Linked DNA regions of Homo sapiens: all the other regions are linked to region 5. The links come from fine-mapping of genetic effects on gene expression. A gene starts in region 5. Each other region holds a variant in brackets. All regions are shown on one strand. Distances are between the middles of the regions. Region 1 overlaps SHROOM2 (shroom family member 2). Region 2 overlaps SHROOM2 (shroom family member 2). Region 3 overlaps SHROOM2 (shroom family member 2). Region 4 overlaps SHROOM2 (shroom family member 2). Region 5 holds the start of SHROOM2 (shroom family member 2).

Evidence for each region. PIP is the estimated chance that this variant, and not a neighbour inherited with it, causes the effect. A credible set is the group of variants that fine-mapping cannot tell apart.
Region 1: its variant is the best candidate, but not a certain one, in a credible set for the expression of SHROOM2 in sun-exposed skin (GTEx, PIP 0.68).
Region 2: its variant is the best candidate, but not a certain one, in a credible set for the expression of SHROOM2 in fibroblasts (GTEx, PIP 0.90).
Region 3: its variant is the best candidate, but not a certain one, in a credible set for the expression of SHROOM2 in sigmoid colon (GTEx, PIP 0.78).
Region 4: its variant is the best candidate, but not a certain one, in a credible set for the expression of SHROOM2 in lung (TOPMed, PIP 0.61).

The regions. Positions count from the first base shown.
Region 1 is chrX:9,944,251-9,950,285 of GRCh38, reverse strand. SHROOM2 (shroom family member 2) reads right to left here. Exons shown (of 10, transcript NM_001649.4): 9 at 5,373-5,645; 10 at 843-3,615. The coding sequence ends at 3,349. Among named protein-coding and RNA genes, the nearest start is that of CLDN34, 20 kb to the left of the region's middle. The variant C/T (reference allele first, on the strand shown) is at 2,477.
Region 2 is chrX:9,904,318-9,910,429 of GRCh38, reverse strand. The region is part of intron 5 of SHROOM2 (shroom family member 2); the gene reads right to left. Among named protein-coding and RNA genes, the nearest start is that of CLDN34, 60 kb to the left of the region's middle. The variant C/T (reference allele first, on the strand shown) is at 2,614.
Region 3 is chrX:9,845,230-9,851,341 of GRCh38, reverse strand. The region is part of intron 1 of SHROOM2 (shroom family member 2); the gene reads right to left. Among named protein-coding and RNA genes, the nearest start is that of SHROOM2, 62 kb to the right of the region's middle. The variant G/A (reference allele first, on the strand shown) is at 2,597.
Region 4 is chrX:9,935,213-9,941,324 of GRCh38, reverse strand. It overlaps SHROOM2 (shroom family member 2), which reads right to left. Exons shown (of 10, transcript NM_001649.4): 7 at 3,640-4,191; 8 at 1,959-2,130. Among named protein-coding and RNA genes, the nearest start is that of CLDN34, 29 kb to the left of the region's middle. RefSeq lists enhancers at 179-678, 763-1,962. The variant GC/C (reference allele first, on the strand shown) is at 3,213.
Region 5 is chrX:9,782,751-9,788,862 of GRCh38, reverse strand. It overlaps SHROOM2 (shroom family member 2), which reads right to left and starts at 2,434. Exons shown (of 10, transcript NM_001649.4): 1 at 2,153-2,434. The coding sequence starts at 2,317.

The DNA of each region.
Region 1 (6,035 bases), 160 kb before region 5:
CCAGGTGCACAACAGGATAAGAGCCGTATTCACAGCTTATGCAGCCGTGCTGTGAACCAAGCATGGCGTCTAAGCACACCAACATTTATCAACTCACTTGACCTCACAGCAGCCCATCTCCAATTACGAGAGAGGAGCTGGGGCTCACAGAGGCTGGGTTACTTGCTGTGGCCACACAACTAGCAGTGACAGAGGTGGCTTTGCTCCAGGCAACTTGACTCCGTGGTCCCAGCCACTTTGGTGCCACTCCATTATCAGTAGACACGAGGAGGCGGGCGAGATGGAGCCCATGGACAGCCCCAGTTCTTCATCCCTCCCTGTGTCCACACTCTGCCATGTGAATTTACGGTTCCTCCACTAAAAGGTGGAGCCTGTTCCACACCCTTTGGTGCCGGGGTTGGCCAGGAGATGTGCTTTGCCAGAAGAAGGTTAGCAGGTATGACAGGACAAAGCCAGGAGAAGCCCCTTTGTGACAGGGTGTGTTGTCTTGTGCCCCTGCCATGAACACATCCAGCCACACGGCTGGTCCCATGAGGAAGAGGAGAGGCACACAGCACAGAGCCCAGCCCGAATTAGCTCATCTACAAATTCATGAGCTAAGTCAATACTTTGTTGCACAGATTATTGCTGACATTTTACAGTTTGTTACACAGCATTACTGGGGCACCAGCTAAGTGATGCGACCTGGTCCCTGTTTCCTCACCACAAACCGACTAGTGTAAATAAATTACACACATATAATCAATCCCACGGTTTACTCAGATGGCTTAAGAATCTGACGTATGGTGAGGACATTCTTTTTTTACAAAAGCTGTAAAGTAGGTAAATCAAAGACATCTCCATTCACTTGAAGAGACACTATTTATTTTGTTACAGTCAAGCAGGATGATCTGTTGATAGGTGAGTGGTAAGTGTCGAGCATGAAATCTACACACATTTGCTGTGGTGGACTGAAGGATACAAGCCACAGGCCACCCCCCATAGGCAGAGCCCTCCACAGCCACACTACAAGAGGGCGAAGGAGCAGCTGCCACCCAACAACACCAGGGCCAACCATTAGCACCAGATTGATTTTCTATGAATAATACAACTAGATACAGAGTTATGGATGTTGACTCACTAGAATCTTTGGGTCCCCACTAACCAGACGTTTCAGAGGCAAACAGGGGAACTGACAGGACAGCTGGCTCTATGTGCTTTGCTACAAGGATACTCGAGCACGACGTATTGCTGTGTAGAAGAGAAAGTCCTAAAAAGACATCAAAAGGCTGAGTACAGACACCAATTGGATTATTCACATTTTACACACATATCATCAAAATGACCACAATACTGTATTTGAGGGCAAAGAATAACAGGTAAAAGCTCTGCCAAACAAAATACTCTGAAATTCCTTGGGTCGTCTCCCCGAGGGAGAAAGATGGGGGTAAGTGCACAGCCAGCTTCACCTTTTCAGACTGACCAGCATTCACGCAAGTGACTACCAGCTGGAGAGGAGGAGGAAGCTTCGCTGGCAGAACAGGGATTTTTCAAGTTAGCAAGAGCTTAATTTAACAGGAATACACACTTTTGGAAAGACATTTATCCTTTTGGCATTGGTAGGCTGCCAAAAAGGCGGTTTATTGCCTGCATCATTGAGCTTGCCAGTTTGGACTTGGCTCTATAGAGAATGCATTACCGTCAACACGGCCCCTCTGGCTCAGGAAGTGTGGATTCTAGTCTTTTAAGACATCTGTGTGTGTGCATCTGTGCACGCGCACGCGTCTGCTTTGGTAAGGCTGTGGTCACTGCTGCTGACAAAATGAAATCTCCATTCCACTGGAAAACTTCTTTTATGGGAATAAGGGGAAGTCAGGGTTAAAATGATCCGTTGATCCAACAAATGCCCTAATACGACCTAAACACGAAGTCACCCAAGGGATTCACTCACCATTAACATGCATTTAATTAAACATTTTTTGAAGAAATACACTGAATCTACAATTATTAGATAAAAATAAGTAAGTTATAAATTATAACCAAGCCATCGGCGGCTGAACGTCTTTTCGTGTGCTTGTTTGCCACGCGTGTATGCTCTTTGGTGAAGTGTCTATTCAAGTCTTTTGCCTGCTTTTCACTTGGGCTGTTTGTTTTCTTACTATCCGGTTTGAGAGTTCTTTGTACATCCTGGACACAAACCTTTTGTCAGATACACGATTTGCAAATATTTTCTCCCAGTCTGTGACTTGTCAATTGGGAACTGACAGCATGACAGTGTTTTCTTTTAACAAACCAGGCTCTCTTTAGAATCCTGCCATTTCAATCAAGGAAATGGGCATAGAATCTTTAAACTTCATGGCAGAAAAAGATCAAGCTCAGGAGCTGTGTAGTCCACGGGACCTCTGAAGAGGAAGGGGTCTTCCCGTCCATGGAATGTGGCCCTCATGCCATGCTAAACGATTTAAGGAGGAAACAATGGAAAAGTAGCCAATTATCA[C/T]GGACAATCATATGCATACAAAATACATGGGGGGAAAGTAACTGAAAAAATCTTCTGTTGGTCTTGAGAAACAGCTAACAAGCACATTACTACTGGACACGCTCTTAACCAAAAAATTTTACTTTGCAGAACAACTGTGATGTGAGGTGAGAAGGACTAAAGCTATTTGCCTGCTTGGTGCGTGACTGTGTTTTTTAAAGCATGCACGTTATTTCTTTAAGTGGCAATTTAATCTGAGAATGAGTGAACCCAACCACACAGGTGGTTCCTTTCACAGTTGGTTTTTAACCATTAGGAAACTATTCACCCTTCCAAAAAGTTAATAAATTATCATCATCATGATGATGATTTCTGCTGGGTCAGAGAACATCATTAGATAACAGAGACAAATGCTCACACTGTTGAACGAGCAGGGACAAAACCTGGCAGCCCATGCCTGGATGAATGACAAGAGAAGATGAGCACCAGGGTCCCCCTCTCATGCACGTCATGACGCGCTGGCTGCTGTCCAAGCAGTTGGCTCAGCATCTGAAGACGGGAGGAACAACGGGTTTCCCACTGACAGTGACCACTCGGCAGGCACCACAGGCCCAGCCCACAGCCCATGCAGTGGAAACTCACATCCAGCAGAGCCTGGTGTCAGGTGTAGTTATGTGTAAAGGAAAATGGCTCTCAGCAATCAAAGGGGAAACTAAAAAATTAAATAAATCATCCCACACAAACACAAAAGTTATTGCTTTTATAACAGCCTCTTTGCTATGGGAGAAGTCTCTTTCCAGGCCATGAACACAGATGGGGTCTTCACGAGTATCCTTGGGAACGGAGCTGGAGCTCGGAGGCCCCGTGCCCCTCCTCCACCGGGGACTGGTCTCTTATTTGCCCCTTTCGGGCTGAAGGCTGTCCAATAAGCACTTCAGCTGCTCTTCACCAAGGTGGATTTTATCTTCCAGCTCCCGCTGCTCGATGATGAGGGCCGACTTCATCTTCACGAAGTGCTCATAGTCCGCGAGGCTCTCCTCGCTCAGATAGTTGGCCAAAATGTCAAAGACGATGCGCTCGCGGCGGTCCAGGTTCTCCTTGAGCTCCTTGGCGTCCTCGTGCTGCTGGATCAGGACTCTCTGCTTCTCAAGCAGTGATTGCTGTTGACAGACAAACAAGCCTGTTGAGGACCAGGATGAAAGCTGGGGCACTGGCCAACCCTTGAAGACACTGGCAACTTGTGGGCTGGTCCCACAACTTATCGATGGAAACCCTGATGCCACCAGAGATCCGATGGGGTCCACACAGACAAACCCAGGGCCCAGGGCCTGGGGGCATGTGTCTCATGGTTGCAGCGGGCCAGCCTGAGGCCCCCAGAAGCCGCCCACAGGCCTCTCTGGGTTTCCTCTTGCTGTCTGAGCCTGACTCTCTCCCACCTGCCTCGAATGGTGAGCAGAAGAGTCACCAAGGGACTCACAACGACAGAATTCTGAGATGCTGCAAAGGGCAAAGGACTGCGGGGCCCTCTTGGCGTCAAGGTCCGCTCCATGGGAACACCGTGGGACAGCTGGCCACATGGGTGGACTCGAGAGGAATTCAGGGTAGGCTTACTAAATGCTCCTGGCAGGAGGAGGAGAAGCCCCCGAGCCTGCAGAGCATATCTGCACACAAGGAAGCCTGAGGGTGGAGAAGACGCAGTGCTGTGCACGGGTGTCGGCCAGCAGCCCCCTCGGGCACGGTGCCACCCTGACCTAGCTAGTTCCACGACACAGTTACTAAGCACTCGGCTGAGTGCAGAAGGGCACCGTCTCCAAGCCCAGCGCCAGGACAGCGTTCTGCGTGGCCCAAATCACCCTCACCTGGAGAAAGGGGAAGGGTGCTTCTTCTGCTCCCCTTCTGAGAGAGGTTAAGATGTTTTATTCATGATACAGATGAACATTCTGAAGGCCTGTTCTGTGCAAACAAAACTAGCTGTTTTACTGATATTTGGCCTATGAGGTAAAAGCCAACGAGGCAGCTATTATTTCTCTTGGTTCATATGTGAAAGGACGAAAAGACAGACCCACTGAGAAACGCCTTGAAGTTAGATGCACTGTCTGCTTCCTTCTAGACTGATACATGCCCTCTTGTTAAATCACAGCTACAACCACCACAAGAAAATAGCTATCATTGAGTACTTACGATCGTCAGCAGGCAGGCATGTCTGTTACGGACTTATACATGGTAAAAGAAAAGTAAAAACAACAACAACATGATTTTTCTAAGAAGAGACAATTATCAGTAAGAGTCAATAGGAATATCTAAAAAGATGTTAAAAAGAGGTAACAGTTCTTTGAGAAGATCCCGCAACCCTGCAGTCCAATGACGGTTCAACTCCCTGCATCTGATAAGCACCTTTTCCCCTCAATTAAAAGGAAGGAGGCCAGGCACAGTTGCTCACACCTGTAATCCCAGCACTTTGGGAGGCTGAGGTAGGCGGATCACTTGAGCTCAGGAGTTCCAGACCAGCCTGGCCAACATAGTGAAATCCCATCTCTACCAAAAAAATACAAAAATTAGCCAGGCATGGTGGCATGCACCTGGGAGCTCAGCTACCCGGGAAGCTGAGGTGGGAGAATCTCTTGAACCTCGGGAGGCAGAGGCTGCAGTGAGCCGAGATCGCACCACTGCACTCCAGCCTGGGCAACAGAATGAGACCCTGTCTCAAACAAACAAACAAACAAACAAACAACTAAAGAAATATAAAAGGAAGGAGAGGGTATAGAGCGTGCACTGTCTCGACAAGGTCTGCAGGAGGAGGTGGACAGGCCATGTGGAAGCTATGCTAGGCTCCAAGGAGCTGACTTTCACGACACTTGAAAAACAGCCTTCCCACGAGACCACCCCCCATTTCCAAGTCAGACGTATCTGCATTTACCCGATCACCGGGAGAAGCGCCGTCGTCCAAATTATTGAGGGCATTCTCCACCCGGGCCAGGCGGCCTGACAGCGACAGCAGGAGGTTCACCACTTTGTCCAGGTCTCCAATGAACATCCGGAACTTGTCAAACTCGCTGGGCTTGCAGACGCCTTTCACGATGGCCTCCACCTCGGCCCCCAGCACGGTGTTGGCCTGCACGTCCTCCAGCAGGCTCTCGCGGGCCTCCCGGAGCACCTGCAGCTTGCGGCTGATGCTCTCGATGAGCTCCTGCTGTTGGGCACGGGATGGCAAGGGAACACGGAGACACTGGTTAGGCCGGCCCCCACCCCGGCCACACTGCTCACTGCCACCTTGGCGCACCTACGTGAAAGGTGCAGCTGACCTGCGTGAAAGCTCACTTTTGCATCACCAAATAATAGGGGATTTATACGACTAAGGGAAAGAAGAATGACTCCTAATGGCACTATTGGCATTTAAAAATAAAATAAACCTGTTCTCGTTCTGTTCATGCCCTATTAGAGAACGTCGGAGTTGTGGCCCCGATGCTCGTCATGGTAGATGCAGTTTCAACCCATATCTTTGGAAGGAGTCACAGACCTATGTATTCTGTCCTTTGGAATTTTCTAATTTAAAGATTCACATAGAGAGAAAGTAGTGAGT
Region 2 (6,112 bases), 120 kb before region 5:
CTGGCCAGCATCTCATTTTAGAATGGGTTTAGATTTACTAAAAAATTGCAACAGCCAGGCGAGAGCTCCCATATGCCCTCTACCCACTTCCCCCTATTATTAATATCTGACTTACTATGGGGTGTGTTTGTCATAGTTAATGAATCAATATTGGTACATTAATATTAACTAAAGGTCACACTTTATTCAAATTTTCTGTTTAATCAATGTTCTCCTTCTGTCTTTGAACCTCATCCAGGTACTGCATCATACTCAGGCCTGCTTCTTCAGACTCCTCTTGCTGTGAGGGTGCTATAGCTTTAGACTGAACACTTGTGCCCCCCACCCCCAAATTCCTATGTTGAAACCTAACCCCCAGGTGATGGTGTTAGGAGGTGGGGCCTCTGGGAGGTGATGAGGTCATAAGGATGGAGCTCTTGCGAATGGGATTAGTGCCCTCATAAAAGGGACCCCTGAGAGCTCCCTCTCCCCTTCCATCATGTGAGGACGCAGCAGAGAGACAGCCATTTGTGAGCCAGAAAGCACCTTCACCAGACACCGAATCTGCCAGTGCCTCGATCTTAGACTTCCCAGCCTCCAGAACTGTGACAAATACATTTCTGCTGTTTATAAATCATATAATCTTAGGTGTTTTATTATAGCAGCCTGAATAGGCTATGATAGTTTCTCAGGCTTTCCTTGTTTTTGATGACCTTAATAGTTTTGAAGAGGTCTGTTCCGGCATTTTGCAGCATGTCTCTCAATTGGGAACTGTCTGATGTGTTTTTATGATTAGCCTGGGACTTCTGGGAGAGAGACCATGGAAGTGAAGTGCCACTGTTATCCTATGATATCAAGGGGCATGCTGTCAATGTGACTTACCTGTCAACGTTGGCCCTGATCGCCTGGTGAAGTTGGTATACACCAGTTTCTCCACTGTGATGTTCCTCTCCTCGGTCCCCTTTGCCACACTGTACTCTTTGGAGGGAGCTTACTGTTGGCAGCCCACACTGAGCGGGGAGCGGGGGAGCTATGCTCCACCTCCTTAAGGGCACAGTAGCTACATAAAGTATTTGCAATTTTCTGCACAGCAGATTTCTCTATTCTTCATTTGTTAATTTATTCAACCATCCTGCGTATCAGTCTGGGCTGTGGATTCATTTTATATATTGGATTATAATCCACTACTACTTAATTTTGCTGCTTAACTTGTTCTGCCTTTGGTCATTGTTGGTTCCTGTGTCCCTATGACATACCCACACTGTTGTCACCGCTGGGTTTACATATGGGTGTATTTGAGCGCTTATTTTCTGGCACTATAAGATACTCCAGGCTCATCTTGTACAGTCCCTGCCCCAACCCTAGACTCAGTCATTCCTCTGAGGAGCCCTGGTTCCTTTTATTGGAGAAAAGCCTTAGAAAACAAGTTCTGCATGCTGGCTGTGCTCTAGGAATCCTGTTTTTTTATTTTTGTTTTTATTTATTTATTTATTTATTTATTTATTTTTGAGAGAGGGTCTCACTGTCACCCAGGCTGAAGTGCAGTGGCACCATCATAGCTCACTGCAGCCTTGACCTCCCAGGCTCAAGCGATCCTCCCAATCCAGCCTCCCAAATAACTGGGACTACAGGTGCACCACCATGCCCAGCTAAATTTTTTTTGTAGAGATGGGGTCTCACTATGTTGCCCAGGCTGGTATTGAACTCCTGGGCTCAAGCAATCCTCTCAGCCTCCCAAAGTGCTGGGATTATAGGCATGAGCCCCTGTGCCTGGCCTAGGAATCCACTCTTAAAGGAGACCCTCCAAGAATTCCTTCTAAACAGAAAGCACATTTATAATATTAAAGTTTATAATGTGGCTTTCCAGATACCCATGTTTCTTAGAGCGAGGCATAATTATCAGGGCTTATAAGATGCTCAAATCTTTTTGTAGATTGTATAGTATAATACTATTAAGACTTTAAAATCATAATCATTGTAACAAAATGCATACAAATCTGCTTTTAATTGACACAAAACATTTGTGCCCTTGAAAAAGTCCACACATAAAAAAAGAACAGAATGAAATCACCACCCTAGTACCCTTATGTTCTGAAAGAACTTCCTCCTCACCTCTTAGTCTTGGTGAAACCTTGAACTTTTCTGAGTCACTTTCCATGAATTGAGGGGCATGCCCAGCCCATGTGGTCCAAGGACAACCTTCCCTAACCCAGGCTATCACTAACAAGTCAGAAAAGCTGGTGCTCCAGCATCCTGCGTGCTCCTGCATTCTTGGGCTGTGAACAAGCTACAGCCCCCTCTACTTGGACAAAGCAAACTTCCCCAAGTTAACCACACTAGGGATGGGGAGATGGATATCATGTTGCAAGATAATCGCGAACTATTACAAAGAAGCCTCTTTGAAAACATCCAGACAGACTGCCACTGGGTTCCATGCTCCCTGTGCTGGAAGCACACTCATGTAAGACCATCCCTTACACCCCTCCACTAAGCCCAACATGGTCGGCAAGCAAACCTTTGTGTAAAGGACCAGATGGCAGATATTTTCAGCCCTAGGAGCCATCCGATCTGTTGCAATGACTCAACTCTCTGCCATTATAGAGAGGGAGCAGCCACAGGCCGCCTGTGAGCAAA[C/T]GGATGTGGCTGCATGCCAATAAAACTTTATTTAAAAAAACAGACAGGGGGCCAGAGTTGGCCTGTGGACCATAGTTTGCTAACCCCTGACTAAAGCAATGATTACACAATCCTTTCCTCTGTTGAGTCATCAATATCTGCTTCCCTAGAACTCGAAACCAGTGAGTCTAGGGGTGCTTTATCATATTCTTCCAAGTAGAGAAGAAAGTTGCTCTGCTCCCCCAGGAACTTGTTTCCAAGTGACCCTGACCTAGACCCCTCAACCCTTTACCATCTGACACCACCCGATTTGGGTGAGCTGCTTGAGAGTGTCGCACAAACCATGAAACCCAAACTCTGCAGATGATTCCGGAAGTGATCTGAGGAAGGATGGGATGCAGGTGTGTGGGATTTGCTTAGGAGAAGGGGAGCCGGGAGGGTGCTCTGGTGCATACAGTGGGCAAACACAGAGTGGAGAGCGGCACGGCAGTGTGGAGACTTTCTATTCAGAGACACAGCCTGTGTTACACCGGCTCCAGTTCTGCTCAGGGAGCCACAGGTAAAACTACCTGTGCCTGGTAAACAGGAGGCAGGGCTGACTCACAGAAAGAAACAAATGACTTGAAGGAAGGGACCAGGCGAGTTCTGCAGAGGACATCCACATACCTGACTCAGAGGTTTCCTTGTCTTGCTTCCTGCTTTAGGGCAGGGCAGGAAGGAATGTGGAGAAGCGAAAGGCCCCTGTGGCTGCTGGGTCCGGTGGGACAGTAGGGATGCTGCCCGCCTCCCCCCTGCCCCAACGCCAGGGGGACCAGCAAGGGCTGGAATCTAGCCAGAGTCCTCTTAGCAGGCCTGCAGGGAGGGCAACCTGGTCACCGTGTGGCTGCTTTTGCGCTATCACGGCAGAGCTGAGTGGTCGCAGCAGGGACACTATGTTCCTCTGAGCCAAACATATTTATCATCTCATCTTCCGCAAACTTTGTCAATCTCTGAACTACAGCTGCTTAATGCACAGACCCATTTTATTTATTTATTTATTTTAATTTTTTTTGAGACAGTTTCACTCTTGTTGCCCAGGCTGGAGTGCAATGGCACGATCTCGGCTCACTGCAACCTCCGCCTCCCAGGTTCAAGCGATTCTCCTGCCTCAGCCTCCTGAGTAGCTGGGATTACAGGTGACTGCCACCACACCTGGCTAATATTTTAGTAGAGACGGGGTTTCACCATGTTGGCCAGGCTGGTCTCAAACTCCTGACCTCAGGTGATCCACCCGCCTTGGCTTCCCAGAGTGCTGGGATTACAGGCGTGAGCCACCACGCCCTGCCTGACAGACCCATTTTAAATTAAAAAAAGTTTTCTTATGGATTCCCAGTGTTGAGATTTTTTTTTAAAGACTGAGATAAAATATATCATAAAATGTGCCCTTTGAAACAGCGCAGTTCAGTAGTTTTTAGTATATCACAGCAGTCACCATCACCACTATCAGATTCTAGAGGATTTTCATTACTCCAGAAAGAAACCCCACGCCCATGAACAGTCTCTCCCTCACTTCTCCCCTCTTAACCCCTGGCAGCCACTAATCTACTTTCTATCTACGGATGTGCCTATTCTGGACATTTTATATAAATGGCATCATACAATATGTGATTTTTATTTTTTTTTATTAGACTGCTAAATGTCTCTATATAAAATCTGTTTCCTTATTTTAATGGTTCTTAGGCTATAAAACACAAAACAAAATTTGCAAGTTATATGCAAGCAAAACTGTAAAGCTGATGTCAGGTCTATATGACAGGTGATGTGGCTTTGCTGAGCATAAACCATGATGCTCGCGGCCCAGGGCACTGCAGTGCCGCTGCTTCTTGGCCCAGCTATCAAAGTTTCCTGGGTGCCACAGAAGGACTCATCTCAGCCATCACTTTTGTTTCGACTAACAGGGCACAGAGCTCTGCTGGCACGGTACCCTGATGTTCTTCCTGTCCCTCATCCATGGGGAGCACATCATTTACAGGGGAGTCCTGAACTTACTCTTTACTTCCACCAAGGGAAACTGTGTCAGCACTGTGGTCAATGAGACTCCCACACACACATACACAGCCATGGTCTTGCACACCATCCACAACACTTGATTTAGATTCTAAGAGCTAGTATGGAAACGAACACACAAAAATTTAAACTGGCAAAGAGGACAGACATGTTCCCAAGGATGTGCTCCAAGTGCCACGTGCGAGAAAGCCCAAAGCAGAAATACATCACTGGCTCCCGCGCCGTCACCGCCCACGCGTCAGTCCTCCCTCGCCCTCCGGCCTTCTGGACTCTCCTGGCGTTGGAGGCGGTGGTGAGCTGTGTGGTATGCAGGGGCCTGAAGCGGGTTGCTCAGCTGGCCCGGTGGGATGCAGACCTGACACGTGCTGCTAGCTCTGGCGGCCTCCTCTAGGAATTCTTTGGGTTTGTGCAGATTTAAAAGACACAAAACTTGTGGGAATATTTGAATGCATTTTCTATTTATATTGAGAAGGAGGTGACTCAGAACTATTTCCTTTTTTATTTCAAATGTGTGGGCCTTCAGAAAACAGATGAGCTAAATCGATTTCTGAGACTAACTGCAAGGACCTAACTGCCACATAAGACACTGAATCTATGGGACTCTTAAGTCAAACTTTAAAAATGAACACATTGGCTGGGTGTGGTGTGGTGGCTCACCCTTGTAATCCCAGCACTCTGAGAGGCTGAGGCAAGAGGATCACTTGAGGCCAGGAGTTTGAGGCCACCCTGAGCAACATGGCAAGGCCTTCTCTACAAAAACTTTTTTTGTTTTTTTAATTAGCTAGGTGTGCTGGCGCATGCCTGTGATCCCAGCTACTCGGGAGGATCACTTGAGCTTGGAGGTTGAGGCTGCAGTGAGCCATGATTGTGCCACTGCACTCCAGCCTGGGTGACAGAGCAAGACCCTTTGAATGAATCAATCGGTTATCAATCTGTACAGCCTTCTGGGTGGATGTCTGTGTCACCTCAGCCCAATCTGGGTGGAGGACTGGACTAGGACACAGCCAAGAGGAATGGAGGCTGGAAGAAGCTAAAGGGGAGAATGGACATCTATGTTTCCAGGTAGCTCTCTGGAGAAAGGTGAAAGCCCCAAAGGATCCCGTAACATGCGAACGCAGCCAAGGTCGGCCCAGAGGCTGAGAGCTTTGAAGAACGCAGCCAGCTGACAAGAAAGGAGGCCAGAGGAGAGGCAGAGCAGAGCGGGGCTGCCACGTCAGCACGTGCTACGGGAGTCTCTCCCCCAAGAGAGGCCGCTGGGGGCTCCAGGGATGGGGCTGCTGGGAAACAAAGGGGCAGCTTTCCACAGGGCTGGATTCTTCTGGAAAGGCAAGTCTCAGGCCACAGCCTAGGAGTCACATGAGGGATCAAGGATCCTGTGCGAGTACAGCTACGTATGTTGGCACCCAACCATGGGGCAGCAACTGTTGTATTTTTTGTAGAGATAGAGTATTGCTAGGTTGCCCCAGCTGGTCTC
Region 3 (6,112 bases), 62 kb before region 5:
CTGAAGCTATAATGATCTCAAAATAAAAAAAGAGGCCAGGCATGGTGGCTCACACCTATAATCCCAATACTTAGAGAAGCCAAGGCAGGAGGACTGCTTGACGCCATGAGTTCAAGACCAGCCTGGGCCACATAGCAAGACCTGATCTCTACAAAAATTAAAAGCGTTAGCCAGGCTTGGTGGAGTGTGCCTGCAGTCCCAGCTACACAGAAGGCTGAGGTGGGAGGACCACTTGTGCCCAGGAGGTGGAGGCTGCAGTGAGCTGTGTTTCTGCCACTGCACTCCAGTCTGGGTGACAGAGTGAGACTCTGTCTCTAAAAAAAGAGAGAGGAAGAGATGAGACTGACAAAGAGGGGATCATAAGGCCACGCTGGTCTACCAGGGGCTGGAAACAAAGGGATCTGGCTGACTTCCGGAAGGCTGTGGTGAGAGGCAGGGGCCCTCCCATTAAGACTTATCAATACCAGGGTACAAGTTTTTCTGTTTGTTTTCTCTTTTTTTTTTTTTTTTGACACAGAGTCTTATCCGCTAGCCCAGGCTGGAGTGCAGTGGCACGATCTCGGCTCACTGACCTCCTGGGCTCAAGTGATCCCCCCACCTCAGCCTCCTGAGTAGCTAGGACTACAGCTGTGTGCCACCGCACCTGGCTAATTTTTGTATTTTTTGCAGAGACGAGATCTCACTATGTTGCCCAGGGTGGTCACGAACTCCCTGAGCTCAAGAGATCCACTCGCCTTGGCCTCCCAAAGTGCTGGGATTACAGGCGTGCACCACCACGCCTGGCTTAGGTCATTTTCATAAGGACATGGGGTGCCACAGAGAAGGGGCATATGAGCCAGGAAGCCAAACAACAATGCTGGCCCGCTGTACAACTGTGAGGAGAGGGCGAACTCTCATGGAGCAACCAGGGAGCAGGCCGCTAACTCACTTCATAACCTGAAGCGACTTTTTGGAAAGATTAGAGAAGTGACTATACCAAAGCTGCAGTGATGTGGCCTGTCAACCAACCAACCAATTAATCAATAAAAGAAAATGACAGCCAACCAATCAATAAAAGAAAATGACAGCTTGTAGCAGAAAAGCAGGCATGTAAGAAGGTCAGCAAGTGGGCATCTCCGCTGGCTGGCCTTTGGTCTACACAATGAGCAGCGCCCCCGGGTGCTGCAGACGGGAATGATCCCACAGAGCTGCCACGCAGCCCAGCCTGGCCCCAAGATGCCCAGCAGGTATGAGAGGGACAATACACACCCAAGGTTCAGGGTGCTCACCTCAAAAGTGTCAGTCTCCGCTCAGGTGCAGCAGTGTTCTCTCCTTCAGTTCTCCCCAGTGTGACAGCAGGAAACCACTGTCCCCAATCCTCCCCACCAAAACAGTATCTGAGAGGTACCTGCTCTGCTTCAACGTGTTGTTAAAAACTGTACAGCAACAGGCACTCTCTTAAATACAATCTAATGTATCCATTCCTTGCTAAATTGCATGCAACTATTTTGATGCCTTTTAAACTCAAGAAAGAGTATCCTATCTTGTCTGCTGGTGTTATCTTCATTGTACCTACAAGCTAGGGAAGAGATTGGCAAAGTTCTCTGAAATTACCTAGAGCTAATGTGATGAGGAAACTTCTTCCCACAACTGCCTCCTTCTACCCCAGAGCGAGATATCTGGACAGGGCATGTGTGGTGGTGGGGGTGCTCAGCCCTACATTGATGGCAAAAGGTTCTTGATCCAGGAGCAAATAAAGACATGCTCTAAGGCGACGTGTAAAGCTGCCTGCCATCACCCCAGAGGGATGGACCCCAGGAGCACTCAGCAGAGAGGAAACTTTGGTTACTGCTCAAACTCCTAGCCACGCCCGCCCAGCTTAGCAAGTGCCACAAGGCCACCAGCACCCCCATAGGGAAGCTGCAGCCCTGGTCCCACATGGGCAGCCTCTAAAATCAATCCCATGGAAAGGTTTGTTTCAGGGCGAACTGTGGGGAGGAGTCTGGGGAAGGAGGGCAGAATGTGCTGCAGAGGGAGGAGAGATCAACAGGAGGTGAAGCAGAGGTGGGAGTACACAGAAGCTCCCACATGGACTGCTCCTGCCAGCCGGCGCCTGCTGTCTCTCCTCCCAGCCTCTGTGCTGAGGCACAGAGATCCACGCTCCCATCTTCCTGGGTCCTTGGGTGCATCCAGGAGGGCTTGCAGCACTCCTACACCATCTGCCAAAGGAGGCCGCCCTGGGATGCTCCAGACTATAGATTCCCAGATAGGCCACAGCAAGGGAAGCAGGAGAGAAGCTCGGTTTCCGACACAGTGCCTTCCAGGAGACCCACGGGTGAGTCCAGCTGTACTGTTAACTCCTGGAGGATGCAAACGGTCGCTCTGGGGTGGGAATGTTTACCTGAGTGGACGGTTGTTTGCTCTGGCCCTTTAGGTGAACAAAGTGGATGAATGGAAGGGAATCCAGGCATCCCAGGAGTTCATAACACAATGTTCTTCACGGAGCGCTGCACTCACGCAGGGCACCAGCTGGTTCTCAGCACACGTTACTATTGAGAGCTTCCCCTAACCCTGGCAGATACACCTGCATGTCCCCATCTTGTCGATAAACTGATTC[G/A]GGAAGCTAAAAAATTGGCCAAAGGACAGACACTTTATTCGTCCCAGAGATATGAGGTAACATGCTTAGGGCTGCATGGCTCATTACCGGCAGAGCATAAATCAGCACATGATAAAGTCTCCTCCTAGTTCCTCTCCTCACATCCCCGTATAAAGAGAGTTTTATCTCTAGACATGTAGAACTTAAATACTTAGATACTTAGAACATGCTTTTCTTTTTTTTTTTTTTTTTTTTTGAGACGGAGTCTCGCTCTGTCGCCCAGGCCGGACTGCGGACTGCAGTGGCGCAATCTCGGCTCACTGCAAGCTCCGCTTCCCGGGTTCACGCCATTCTCCTGCCTCAGCCTCCCGAGTAGCTGGGACTACAGTCGCCCGCCACCGCGCCCGGCTAATTTTTTGTATTTTTAGTAGAGACGGGGTTTCACCTTGTTAGCCAGGATGGTCTCGATCTCCTGACCTCATGATCCACCCGCCTCGGCCTCCCAAAGTGCTGGGATTACAGGCGTGAGCCACCGCGCCCGGCCATGCTTTTCAATACATACCTGACTTGACTTCAGCAACATATCAATAGCCACAAGGGATACACAAATTCAGGTTCCTCGATGGCCTCAGTATACAGTGGGGAATCTGTAAACGTGGATCTGCAAATCTATGCAACATGTTTTGCCTGTTAATCCACACAACATTCGCCCTCAGACATGGGGAGTATTGACCTGCTGAGAATATAAGCTTTTCAGGTTGTTGGTAAACAGGCCCTGGAGTGCCATATCCATAATCTATTTCTCCATCTTCCCCTTCCCTGGGCATAGCAAGTGAGCAGCCACAGATGCAAAGGATGAAAGCAAAGAGAAACAATAAAAAAGTGATAACTTTGTTACAACACGAGTAAATCAGAGGGAAAAAATCACGAGAAAAGGACTGGCCAACACTGTAAGTGTCCAAGAGACTAGGGAATGTTGTGTAGAGCTGTTTCCACATGTAACTCAGCACAAGCATTTAGGCATTACCAGAATGCAGACTCCAAAAGTGCTAGTAAGGATAACAGCAATACGTAAAATAAGTCCTAGGTCTCATTCATATTTTAGGACTGGCCGAGGCTTACACTAGGACTTCTTAGGACAGGACACTTTATGCAACTGGCCGTTTTGCAAGCTATTCTCCCAATAAAAGTGTTTCCCTCATTCATTATTCCTCCAACCCCCTTTTCCCTCTGATTAGAGTTCAACTTATCCAGACATCCCCCTAACACTATGTCTCTTACATTCGTCGGAGCTGATAATCTGGAGAGTATGTTGACATTTTCCAGCCATATTTGGATTCGCACAGCTATTGTGACAACCACTAAAAGTCCTACCTTCCTTTGGTGTGCACTGCATTCCAACCCAGCACGGTTAGTCATTGCAAAAGACTGTTTATGACACAGCATTCTCATCCGTCAGGCACGGCCTGGTGCCGGAAAGGCCACTGTAGCAGTCACCCCTCTTGTAATAAAAACAAAATCCCCACCAATAAAAGGCCAATAGAGTTTGTGGTACAACAATTTTGAGGTTTAGTTCCTCTTCACTGGGGTTGAACATTATGAGACTGGTTTGCCGGCCTCATTCTAGAAAGAGGTTTGTCGGGTTTCATGGATACTGAGCTAACACCAAGACAAGCACGGAATAATAACAATGGCTAAAGGCTTTTGGAAACCAAAATGAGAAAACCAGCAGATCGAAGATGATATTCTGGTGGCTGAATTGTCCTTTCAAAAGGTGGGCTGTCTTAGAGCCCAGATTTCACCTATGAGACTCGTCTCAAACCTTCATAGCCATCAGAGCTGGTGGCAGCAGCCAGCATGCGTCCCCGTGCTCCATGAAACAGCTGCAAAGGGACTGTGGGAAAACAAGGAATTCTCTGGAAGGCAGACGCCAACCACAGATCAGCCAAGCATGGGCTCAGAGGCGGCACAGATGCCAAATCCATGTTCAAAATGGCTCATCTCTGGGGAAAGATGAAAGAGACGATAGGAAGGTCTTAACCTTCCTTAGCCACTAAGAATTCTTTAGAAAAACACACAGACTGGAGGCAGTGGCTCATGCCTGAGGTCAGGAGTTCGAGAGCGGCCTGGGCAACATATCAAGACCCCATGTCTATAAAAGATAAAATAATTGGCCGGGTGTGATGGCTCATGCCTGTAATCCCAGCAGTTTGAGAGGCTGAGGCAGGCGGATCACGAGGTCAGGAGATTGAGACCATCCTGGCTAACACGGTGAAACGCCGTCTCTACTAAAAATACAAAAAAATTATCTGGGTGTGGTGGCACGTGCCTGTAGTCCCAGCTACTCAGGAGGCTGAGGCAGCAGAATCACTTGAACCCGGGAGGCGGAGGTTGCAGTGAGCTGAGATTGCACCACTGCACTCCAGCCTGGGTGACAGAGCGAGACTCCGTCTCAAAAATAATAATAATAAATAAAAGAATTAGCTGTGCGTGGTGGCATGCACCTGTGGTCCCAGCTACTCAGGAGGCTGAGGCAGGAGGATGGCTTGAGCCCAGGAGTTTGAGGCTACGGTGAGCCCTGATGGCACCACTGTACTCCAGCCTGGGCAACAGAGTGAGATCCTGTCTCAAAAACCAAAACCAAAACCAAACAAACTGAGGTTCACAGCAACAAAAATGAATAAACTACAACTGCCACCAGAAACAATATGAATGAATCTCACAAAAGTAATGTTGACTGAAAAAGCTAGACACAAAAGAGTCCATACTAGATGATGCTATTTATATAAAGGCCAAATAGAGGCTAACCTCATCTATAGTGTGGACATTCAAGACAGTCCTATATTTGGGGGGTTGGGGAGGCTCAAGGGCACCCCTGGGGAGCTAGAACATTCCTAAAACATAAATAGGAATGTTCCATCTCTTGATCTGGGTAGCGAGTTACATAGCTGTGTTCATTCCACAAAATGTAGAGGAAGGGGTTGCGACACTGCAGCTGCCAGGAATTATGTTTCTCAACTCATGAAGAGGGACTGTCTGCAGCAGACGGGGTGAGACCAGAGAGGAGCAGAGACGGACAGAAAGGAGGGTGACGGGAGCCAGTGTGGGCTGGTGTGCGCAGAGGTGAGGGCCAGGTCCTGGCTCTGAGTCCTTTGTCTCTGGAACTACCACTCCCCTCATCCTGCCCAAGTAGATACAATAAAAGCCTTTATTTGTTTTCCAGAAAAAACAAAAAGGTGGGTGGGGGTGGGTGACAAGGTGGGATGGGAGATGCTAGCTTGGAATGACTCCCCTGCCATTTCAAAAGTGAGCTGTTCCAGCAGGAAGCAGGGGGAGAAGTTATGGAGAACTGTGACCCCGGCTAACTGCTCAGGCTGGCTTCTTGTTCAGGTTTACTGGGTGGGTCTAAATCTCTCGAAAACATTCTTTAGCAACACAGCGCTTGCTAAACAACAGAGTCAGTGCCCCATAAACATGGGCCAAATGAGCCAGACTCCCTAACAAAGCAAAACAAAAACAAGAAAAAAGTCCTGGCAG
Region 4 (6,112 bases), 150 kb before region 5:
TGCGTGGCTTTCCAGGAGGCTCAGGTAAGAGCCTGCAACAGTAGAGACCAGGCACACAGCCACTCTCATCCCTCCACTAAGAATGAGCCCTGGGCCATTCATTCCCTTCCTCCACCTTTTGTTCCCTTCTATAGGGGAAACAAGGTCTATTCTGTCTGGGCCCTGCACTCACCTCCTGGTTCCAGGGAAAAGCCATAATTCTCAAAGATTCTAAACTTAAACCAATCAGCTATCTGGTTCAACTCAACATGGTGCCCTCTTTTCTGGGCAGAGTCCTTCTGAGCTGCCCCAAGTATAAAACCATATCTTGTCATCTCTGCGTGATGCTTCTCTACCAGCCACCAGAGCCCCCTGCTGCCTCCCTGCCTGGGGCTTCCACTCTCTCAACTCTGTCCTTAGTCTTCTCCTAAAACAGAGGGTTCCCTGATTTGGCTCTCAGCTCTATGACCACCTAGCAATGCTGTGACTGAGACAACTGTGGTCGCCCTGGGAATGTTGGAAGCCTACGGAATTAGGGTCTCATATGTTCCCCTGAAGCAGCTACAGAGCAGGTGGCCTGCTAAGTCCCCATCTGCGCTATGCTCGCTTCCTCCCTGAACACGCCTCCGCCTGTGCACGCGTTGCAGGAATGTGCGACATCATAAGCGTGTGGCTGCGGGAAAGCAGGGAGAAAATGTAATGCAGCAGTGGCCGCTTTGTCCAATCAAGCAGGAAAACAGGACCGCTGAGTCATCAGCACCATAGAGAGCTGGGATGTACAGCATGTGCTTCTGGTGCAGGTGCCCAACTCACACTTGCTGAACTAAAGTGAGGCCAACTTCCAGCCCACAGTGACTCACTCAGTTCCGGAGCCACACTTCTGGTGAGGCGGCTTCCCAGCATCTCCAGCCTCCCAAAGCAGGTGGACAGAGTGCCCCACAGATGAGGGCGGCAGAATCAAGGCATGCCGCTTCTGAAATTCATTATATCATGAAAAACAAAGGCATGCGAGCAAAGAATGCAGTTCTCTAAACCTAGGGTGTGACCCAAATTCAAATGGTCCAGATGGTATGATTTTCCTGGTTCTGTGTGGAAAAACCGAACATGTTTTGGATTCTTTATTATTTTTTAAAAGAGGAATGTGCAACCAGAATGAAGCGAATGGTACCGTGTGCCAGATGGAGGGCCCGTAAAAGCCCCAAGACCTAAACCCTTAATTTTCATTTCCCTTTTTAATACCTTGAACCAAAAAGTTACCATCTTCCAGCCCGGAAGCAGTGGCTCACGCCTGTAATCCCAGCACTTTGGGAGGCTGCGGTGGGTGGATCACTTGAGGTTCGAGACCGGCCTGGCCAACATGGTGAAACCCCATCTCTACTAAAAATACAAAAATTAGCAAGGCTTGGTGGCAGGTGCCTGTAATCCCAGCTACTCGAGGGGCTGAGGTAGGAGAATTGCTTGAACCCGGGAGGCAGAGGTTGCAGTGAGCTGAGAGTGTGCCACTGCACTCCAGCCTGGGTGACAGAGGGAGACTCTATCTCAAAAAAAAGTTACCACTTTCTAATTTGAAAATAATTTTCCTTTATCTGAGGCAGGGGGATCGCTTGAGGCCAGGAGGTCAAGGCTGCGGTGGGCCATGATTGCACCATTGCACTCAAGCCTGCACGACAGAGCAAGACCCTGTCTCAAAAATAAATAAATAAGATAAAATGAAAGAGAATGGTGACTAAACTAATTTGACATTGGATCCTATTGAAACAGCAAAGAGACGTTTGTGGAATGGCTCAAGATTAGGACATAGAACTAACAACAGAGGGCTTCACTAATATCACCTCAAATTCCACTGTCCTGAGTGAAAGCTGAACACAAACGCCCTGGGACACGTGGTGCAGGGTCTGCGCTGGGGCAGGATGGTGTGATCCGGATGCCTGCCCCTGCCTGGACACGCACACGCTGTCATTTGGAATGGACTCTCCTACCTTCTTCACCGACAGGTCGTGGTCCAAGTCGCTTCCCGAATCCTCTTCGTGCTCCTGCTGCTCCTGCAGGTCCTTCATCTTGATCAGCAGCTCCGCCTTGGGGGCCGACGTGCTGTAGTAGGTAGAATTGGTGGCCAGGGACACGGCCGCAGGCACGCTGGGCTCCTCTTTCCTGGGTAAAGGTGTGGGAACTTCAATGAGCTGGGACTGTGCACGCAAACAGCCCCTCTGCCCCACCCCCTGGGTTGTGACAAATCAACACTGGTGCTCACGAAAGGACACCAGCCAGGGAGATGAGACAGCCAAAGGGGGAAAAGTAAGTAGGTAACAAGGTTAAAACTAAAAACCATCAACCCTGTCAAATGGATACTCGTAAGTGTATGAAACATAGTTTTTAAAAAAGGCAAAAACTCAAATAAGCAGGAATATCTAAGAATCTCTGCTACAGAGGTGAGAGCACAGATGATCTCTACCAGGAGCCTGGGTTGATGAGGACAAGGACATGTGTGACGCTATCTACAAACACCAACCCTTCTCCCTTCCTCCCAGCAGCCCTGTCGGCGCCCTCCTGCCTGGGTCCACTTGGTCCAGCTGCTCCTCCTTGGCTGTGTGTCATACCCACTCCACCTTCCTACCCATGAATGACGCTGTGCTGGCAGAACATATGTCAGCAGCAGGGAAGATGCCACCACGCATGCCTTTGTGGTCAAGTGGCTGAAGGAGATACGCTGAAAGTGCTACTTACAAAACCAATTAAAATACATTTGTTCAGGCAGGTGTAAATTGTCGTAATTTTTTTTCATTTCTATTTCAAGAGATGGGGTCTTACTCTGTCACCCACACTGGAGTGCAGTGGCACCATCATAGCTCACTGCAGCCTCCAACTCCTGGGCTCAAGTGATCCTCCCACCTCAGCCTCTCGAGTAGCTGGGACTACAGGTGTCTACCACCACGCCTGGCTAATTTTTTGTACTTTTTGTAGAGACTGGGTTTTGCCATGTTGTCCAGGCTGGTATTGAATTCATGGGCTTAAATGATCTGCCTACCTCGGTCAGCCAAAGTGCTGGGATTACAGGTGTGCACCACTGTGCCTGGCCAAATTATAATAAATTTTTTAAATGCAGATGTAAAAAAATTTCAAATAAAGTTTTAAAAAAACATTTCATAAAGAAACACATATATATTCAATCTAAGCCTTCATTCTCATGTTGGCACTAGGGACACGTGGGGGCTGGATGACTCTCTGTGGGGGGG[GC/C]CCTCCTGTGCACTGTAGATGTTGAGCAGTGTTCCTGGGCTCCACCCACCAGATGCTTGGAACACCCCTCCCCACAGTGACATTGCCAACTGTCCCCCAGGGTAGACAGCGGCCCCCACTGAGAACAGCTGTCTTACGAGAAAGGAGACCTGTGGGCATCATCAGAAATCCTGCTGGCCTCAGGCCAAGGCAGCTTGGTGGTCTGCAGTGTGTATTTTCATGTCAGGCCCAAAGCCGTTAACCCTCCATTTCTCTTTCCGGAGGCTCACAAAAAAGCCAAAAAGTGCTAAGCATCGAGGAGCCCTTATGAAAACCCGTCTTCCCCAAAAGCACGCATGAAAACAGAGAGGCAGACCCCCTTCCCTTTACAAGCCTAAGAGATGCCAGGCAGAGTCACGCCCAAGCTGGGAGGCCACGCCTACTCACCTCTCCTCTGTGCTTCTAGGAGAGGGGATTTTGGGGAGCAGCTTCCTCCGTTGCTGGGCTTCTTCCAGGAGGTGCTCGTCTTTGGGGAAGATGCCTTCCATCAAGTCCATAGTGGTTTTGATCTTCACACTGGGATCCAGGATGTCGGCCAGGGACTTATCCTTCCCCACGATCTCCCTGGCCAGCTCCTCCGACTTCAGGTCTTCCACAGTCTTCTCTTTGGCCTTCATGTAGCTGAGCCCTGGAGGGGAGGTGCAGCGGTCTTTCTCGGGGGGCACCTGGGTGCCCAGGGGCTGGGGCTCAGCCGGCTGGGCCCTATGTGGGGCCTCGGGCTCAGCACCCTGCCGCGTGTACAGACAGAAGCGCGAGTAGAACTGCTCAGATGTGCTCAGCGTCTTGATCTGGTCTTTCTCCAGCCCGTGGGGCAGGGCAGGTGGCTCGGCGGGGCATGCCAGGCTCTGGCGGCTCTCCTTCTCTGGCTGGCTCTCCGAGTGCACGATCTTGATGGGCACCATCTTCACCGTGGTGTTGTTGTCCATCACCCGCTCAATTCTGGAAGATGAACAGTCTGCTGAAATCGCAAAGCATGCTCCAGCCACAGACCCTGATTGACGTGTCCCCTGCCCTCCCCTCTGGATGGGAACCTGACTCAAAGGCACTAGCCAGCCACCCAACTCGAAGGAGCCTCCATGATCCCACATCCTGGATGAGGCAGAGGCCTCAAGAAGCTCCCTCTGACTCCTACCTCCGCCTTCCAACCACAGCATCCTTTCTATGCTCAAACCGCCAATGCCACCCCTGAGGCATCCCAAGGTGTCCTCCAGGGGTTCGTGGAGGGCTGTGAGGACTATTTAATACCATTTGTCATTCCGCAGATGATAATGCAAACTTCAACAAGCCCTGTTGGGTTAAATGTTCTTTTGTAGGGGAAGCCTGCAGTGGATGGGCATTTTCCAGGATTCCCATCCGTCCTTAGGTTGGTGCAGGCCCGCGGGTTCCTGCGTAGTTCTCAGGGCCTGGGGAGGGCTCCTCTCCGGAGTGGCCGTGCTTGGAGTCAGGCCAAAGCCCCCCACCACCCCACTTGGGAGAACCTCCTGTGCCATATGCAGGACAGCCCACCCAACACTGTCCTTGTACCCCCCGCCCGCTGTGCTTCAAGCTAGCGTTGCACAGATTTGCACACCAGTGAGATACGATCTCGCAGTAAGCAGCGAGTCATCGGTTCTGTATTACTTCCAAAGGGCACAGTTTTGCTTTTTTTTTAAAAAAGTGTCAGCCAGATGTGGTGGGTCATGCCTGTAATCCCAGCACTTTGGAAGGCCGAGGCGGGTGGATCACTTGTGGTCAGGAGTTCGAGACCCACCTGGCTAACATGGAGAAACCCTGTCTCTACTAAAAATACAAAAATTAGCCGGGTGTGGTGGTGCGCACCTGTAATCCCACCTACTCGGGAAGCTGAAGCATGAGAATCGCTTGAACCTGGGAAGCAGAAGTTGCAGTGAGCTGAGATCAGTGACCTGAGATCACACCACTGCACTCTAGCCTGGGCAACAGAGCAAGACTCCATCTCAAAAAAAAAAGAAAAGTTTCTGGATGAAAGGGACTAGAGAGGTACCTAAAGCATCCCTGGGAGACTGGGGGAGAGAGAACAGGAGGAACAGGCCCAGCAATGCCACAGTCCCTTGTCTGGGGCAGCCCTGCACCTGCTGCTCTCAGCGGCACCGTGCTAGACCATGCTGACCAGGGCCATCTCAGCCAAGAGCTTTTCAGAGCACTGGAGAAGCAGCCCCATATGCTGGTGGTCAGGAGGGAAGCAAAAAGAAACAGGCCAAACTCCACAACCCCAAATTAGGATGTGTTTCTAATGAAGTCAACCCAAAACTGCCCCTACGATGTTACACAAATGTATCCAATTTTCCACAGCAGGAGGGCAGCCACGATGCTCTAAATTTAATGCTGTTTTTCCCTCTTTCACTGGTGACTGGGAATGCAGGAGGGCTCTTTCCCTATCAAGGCAGTGGTGCTCAGGCTGAGATGAACTAACTGCGTATTTTCCTCCCTCTCTCCAGTAGGGTTCAGCAACATCTGATGTGTTTTATCTAGGGACTCACAGACACCTCACAACTGCTTCCTCATGAAGACAATTTACAAAGTCTAACTGTGGAAAATACCATTTAGATAGGTCAGACTTATGAAGGAAAACCCTGGCTAGGCACAGTGGCTCACACCTGGAATCCCAGCACTGTGGGAGGCTAAGGTGGGAGGACTGCTTGCGCCCAGGAGTTTGAGACCAGCCTAGGTAACACAGTGAGACCTCCCCACCTCTCTGTTAAAAACATAATAATAATAAATAATAATAATAATAATAATAATAAAAGAAGGAGGAAAACCTGGCCACCTTATCCAAGCACCAGCAAACGCAGAACCCTCTGCACTCCCTTCACCCCCGCCCCCCCGGCTCCCGGGAGAAGCT
Region 5 (6,112 bases):
TGGAGAGAGGTGACAGTAGCATCAAGCAGGTAGAGGCTGGGGAGGCTGCTGAGCATCCTCCAAAGCACAGGGCAGCCCCACAGCAAAGAGATTCAGCTCACAAAGTCCCCAATGCCAAGGCTGGCAAACCCTCACCTAACCGATGTGACGAAGGTATTCAATATGGCATTGCAGGAGATCCCAGACCCAAGCAGATGGCACTGACTGAAGGGGAGCAGCAGGCTTGAACACTGGGGCCAGAGTCTGATTCTTAGGGCCTTTCCCAGGACTCAACAGTTTGTGACCTCAGGATACACCATTTGCCCTGCCTGGGCCACAGCTGTTTCATCTATAAAATGGGCTGATAAAATTCCATCTGAAGACCAGGACCGAACCAGCCTTGTTCTTGACACCCCTCCCAGTTCTACTACACGCACTCCCATGAGGCTTTCAAATGATACCCTCATTATCATAAAGAGAAGGTGCGCTCTTACCTTAATGCAAGCTATCCCCAAATCAGAGTCTGCTAAATAGCAAGTGAGTTGTACAGTATTCCAGGGCTCTAATATGTAACTATTTAATTACAAGTGGAAAAAAAAAAACGATTAGAAGAGCTATTTTTTAATGAGCCCCAGTGACTTTTCAGTAGCTTTTGGGAGAGGAAGATTCAAAGCTTGGATTAATCCACATTCTGAGCCAAGCGCAGTGGCTCATGCCTGTAATGCCAGGACTTTGGGAGGCAGAGGAGTTCGAGACCAGCCTGGGCAAAATGGTGAAACTCCCCGTTTCTACAAAAAATTTTAAAAAATTAACCAGGCATGGTGGCGCACATCTGTGGTCCCAGCTACTCAGGAGGCTGACAGAACAAGACCCTGTCTCAAAAAAAAAAAAGAAGAAAGAAAGAAAGAAAAGAAAAGAAATAAAAGAAAAAAAAAAGAGGAGTGTTCTGGCTGGGCAGAGTATACACACTTTATGACTGTCCACCATGTTTCCAAAGAAGCCAGTGTGATAAAAGATTACACATTGGTCAAATTTATAACAATGGCAACCTCTTTCCTGAGTTCAACAAAAATTTAGTGCAAAGCTAAACAAGGCTTCTCCAAATCCCTCCACAAAGTTTTGTAATCATAAAAGCGACAGAAAATATAGAATGGAAGACGCTGGTGTCTCATTTGCTATTTGAACAACAAAGCCATCCCACTTCCCAAACTGATTACCAGTGCGGCGGGTTAGGAATCACTTAATTTCTTCCTGCTGTGGAGAGGCAGGAAAGCCGAGAAAACCAGTAAATTATCTTCAAACGCTTCTAGTCGCCAAGAATCTTTACATTTTAAAAGGAACTTCGTCCACACGAAAGGTCCGACTCAACCCTTCCCAGAGAAAATGACCACTACACACTTTTAACTAGAACACAGGGTGACTGGACTGTTGTTTATGTGTTTGCTTTTACAAGTTCATACAGGTTCAACTGGTAAGTTTCCAGATGGATTTTGTTTTGAGACAATAAAATTCAATGTTCTAAAGCAAACCACACACACACACACAACATTCCTGATGAGATACATCTGGAATTTCTTTATTATTATTAGAACTCGGGTCCTGCTCTTAGGAAGCAGGCTTTCAGGTTTCTCTAAGTTTGCGCAGGTATCCAGTGCGCAGTGGATCTGGGACTGGAAGCCGAAAGTCAGTAAACATTGATGGGCTGAAGGGAATCGAGAAGTTGCGCTGGCGACAGCTGCTACTCTGGATTTCGTAGTGATCACAGGCACGGGTCCAAGGGGTGCCGAACCAGGGACCCCAGAGAGGCAAACATAGGTGGGGACGGCTCGGGGACACGTTCCTTCGCTGGCCTCCAGGCAGCCCCGCAGGTGCAGGCCGCCACTGGCGGGCCCGGGAGCGCCAGAGGACCCGGCCAGGCCCCTGCCCGGAGGAGGGAGGGGGAGGGGAAAGGGACTCCGGGCAGGAGCCATTTAAACTCTGCGAGGCGCGGGGAACCGCCAGGATCACACGCCCACGCCGGTCCCGGCGCCCAGGCCCGGCAGGTGACCCCAGCAGACGCGCGCGCCAGACCCGGGGGCGCGAGCCTACCGCCCCTCCCGCGCCCCTACCTCGACGCGCCCCGCAGGGCGGCCAGCTCCCGGCTGTCAGCGCCCGCGCCCCGCGGCCGCCTTACCTTGGTGATGACCAGCGGCTCGCCGTGCTCGCGGCCGCCCTTCAGGGTGAAGCCCCACGGGGCGCCGCCGCTCAGCTGCACCTCCACCAGGCGCCCGCCGTCCGCCGCCCGCGTCTCGGCCTCGGCCAGGCGCTCGGGCCGCGCGCGGGGCTCGGCGCCCTCCATGGCGCGACCGCTCAGCGTCCCTGGCCCGCGCCCATGCACTCCGGGCAGTCCCGGCCGTGGGATCGCAAGGGAGGCTCCGAGCGCCGCAGAACTTGCGCCGTAACTTGGAAAGAAAGTGCCGGCCCGGCGGCGGAGGGAGCCCGGAGGGCTGGCGGGGAGGGGGCGGGGCCGGGGCCGGGGCCGGGGCCGGGGCTGGCGGGGAGGGGGCGGGGCCGACGGGGGGCGGGGCGGGCGCGTTCGGGAGCTCGTACCGCGGGGCCGGTCACGGGGAGCGCGTCCAGAGGTCCAGCCCGCGGCCCGAAGGGTGAGGGACGGGGTCAGGTGCGCGCTCAGGGGCCCACGCGGCCGCTCGTACCGGGGAGAGCTGGAGAGGGGCGCGCCCCGGTTCTCTCGCCCGGTGGAGGGGAGCGGGCCGGGAGGGGCGCTCAGGCGCGCGCGCCGTTCAGCGGGTTCGGGGTCGGGGTCGAGGAGCGCGCGCCCCGGGGCTGGCGGAGCCAGCGCGGGCGAGGACGGGGGCGGAGGCCCCGGCGCCAGGTCGGGCCTTTCCTCCCGCGCCAGAGCTCTGCAGTGCTTCGAAGCTCTGGGCGCCCCCGCCCGCCGGTTGGAGGCCAGGACCGGGCAGGTGAGGCGGCAGGTGAGATGGGCGCGGGGTGGCGTGGCGGGAGTCTCCGGCCTCCTCCGTCTCGGGGCGCGCGGCCCGCCGGCGCCCACACTTTGTTCTCGCGCACCGCGGGCTGCCGCGCAGGTGAGAGCGGAAGCGCCGCGGGAGGCCCTGGTGCCCGCGCTGTGGCCGCTGCCCCGGGGCAGAGGGACCGCCCGTCCCGCGCGGCCCTGCGCGCACTCACACTCTGGACTTAGAGAGCCGGGAAGGGCGCCCCCCAGCAGCCTGAGCCGGGCGCGGGTCCGGCCTCTGGAGGGGCTTGGAAGGCGGGCGCAGAAGGACCGTGCCCCGTTTCCACGAGGGCCTTCCCACCTTCCCGCAGAGGCCTCCCACAGCCACCGCGCAGAAAGCCGTTGCGTCTAGATGCTGTCCCCACTCGCCTAGGATTGGACCACAAGGTCTTCAAGTTTCCCAGGTTTACATCCCCGAAAAGGGGAGGTGGAGGTCTGGGATTGGTGAAAGTTTGCGGACAACATGTGTGCCACCTCTTCCTGCTCGGTTTCAGTTTCCATGAAACTCTGGTCTAAAGTACCTGCATGGATAGGTATTTACATGCTTTGCAAAAAAGCTGTTTTCGTTGCTGTTTCTATACGTAGCTGAAGGCTGGTGAACACCTCTTTTCTCTAAGCAGCTCCATCCAGGCCCTTTTCAGAGGTGACGATGCTGGAGTACGCATCCAGGACAGGCCGGGAGAGCACTGGACAGAGAGTCAAGGGTCCCCGGGTCTGGGTTCTGCCACTGTCAAGCTGGGACAAGAAATCTCAGCTCTGGTCTGTTTCTTCAGAGGTCAAGTGAGAGGGGTGCATTCTGTGGAGGTGTCTCATGCAGCCGATTAAATTCAGAGTCGCAGCTCCACTGGGCACCTGTCATGGCGCTGGGCACGTGGTGACTGCCCCATAATTAACTTCTAACTACAGTCTCTGAATGCCTTTAGTTAGAAGAATGAGGCGATTTTTTCTTTTTCAAAGATTAAACGAAGGCTTAAGGAATGTGCCTCTCAGAATCAAGTCGAGTGTATCTTCACTGTGGTGATGGTCACAGGAGCTGCCAAGTTGATTAAGCTAAATTGCACAGAACTAAATGCACGTGAAACGGGAAATCTGAAAAGGCTTGGTGGATTGTATCAATGTCCATATTCCAGGTTGTGACATTGTGCTGTAGTTTTGTAACGTGTTGCCATTGGAACAGGCAGGTGAAGAGTGAAGGGTGCACAGGACTTCCCTGTATTATTCCTTACCAAGAGGCGAAGCCAGTTGGGTGGGGACTCCGAGAATTTTTCTGTCTTACAAGAGGATTGTAAAATGCACCAATCAGCGCTCTGTGGCTAGCTAGAGGTTTGTAAAATGGACCAATTAGCACTCTGTAAATGGACCAATCAGCGGGATGTGGGTGGGGTCAAATAAGGGAATAAAAGCTGGCCACTGCAGCTAGCAGTGGCAACCCGGTCCAGTCCCCTTCCATGCTGTGGAAGCTTTGTTCTTTCGCTCTTCACAGTAAATCTTGCTGCTGCGCACTCTTTGAGTCTGTGCCACCTTTAAGAGCTGTAACACTCACAGCAAAGGTCTGCAGCTTCATTCTTGAAGTCAGCAAGACCAAGAACCCACCGGAAGGAACCAACTCTGGACACATTACAACTACATGTAAATCCAGTTATCTCACAAAGTTTAAGAAATGGATGGATATGATAAACCAAAAGATAAAGAGCTGTATAAATATACCCAGTGTGCTTATTAGAGTTTGCAGACATGTCCGTCTCCCAAAACAGCCCACTCCCTACCTCCCCACCCCAAGCTGGTATAGACTTCAGTCTAAGCTCTTACCTGGGGCTAAAATTCAGACCACTAGACTCATTATAAAGCAGAGACAGTGATTTCATTGTCTCCATAAATCCAGCATTATTCTATATAGCCCCAAAGTCATCTTTAACATTTTATGTTCACCGTACGTAATCATTGTCAGATTACCCATCTGCCACTTGAAAGGTTTATACTTTTTAAAAGGACTCCCTTGTTCTTAAACTTAGCTAGAAATTTACATCCATCCTTACTAAACAGTGTTTAGCTGGGGTGTTTTGTTTTTTTAATCTTCACATTAAGCATCCATCTCAGGATGGTTGGAATATTTATAAGGCTGCTGTCTATAATGATGTTATGCTGTAAGGGACTGAACCAAGATTTGTGTGGCCTGCTATGAGACAGGTGCCTGCTCAGTCATAAATCCTTTTGTGATATTCTTGGGGTTACTATGGTCTAGGTGCGATGACAGCACTTCTATATTGTGTTTGTTTTGTCATCACAAGACACTGTCAATAATCTTGTGAAAATATATCTTGTGGCTGAAAGGCATCACCCCAGTTGATCAGTCTTGCACCCCCATTGGGAGAGTTTTAGTATGACGTTGAACCAGTGTATGGACTCCTAGTAGATGGCTTTCTTTTCTGAGAACTCACAACTCAGGTGGAATTTTCAGAAGCAGAATCCATTTGTCCATGTTAGTCTTTTGTCCTTTTGGAAAGCTGAGGGGCATGTTTGTTCTGTGTAATTTCTCACTGTGGTTGTTCATTGCTCAGAGAATAGGGTGAGCATATACTCTCTTCTGGACCTGCAAGGAGTGTGACCCTATGAGCGCCTGCCCCGGGGATTCAGTAGCCTTAGGTGTTTGTTTCACTTTTTCTTTTTCTTTTCTTTTCTTTTCTTTTTTTTTCTCTTTTTTTTTTGAGACAGAGTCTCACTGTGTCACCCAGGCTGGAGTGCAGTGGCACGATTATGGCTCACTGAAGCTTGACTGCCCCAGGCTTAGGTGATCCTCCCACCTCAGCCTCCTAAGTAGCTGGGACTATAGGCATATGCCACCATGCCTGCCTAATTTTTTATTTTTTGTAGAAACAGGATCTCACTAAGTTGTCCAGGCTGGTCTCAAACTCCTGGGCTCAAGTGATCCACCCACCTCAGCCTCCCAAAGTGCTGGGATTACAGGCATGAGCCATTGTACCTGGCCACTGTTTCTTTTTCTTTTTTTCTTTTTTTTTTTTGGAGACGGAGTTTTGCTCTTGTCGCCCAGGCTGAAGTGCAATGGTGAGATCTTGGCTCACTGCAATCTCTGCCTCCCAGGTTCAAGTGATTCTCCTGCCTCAG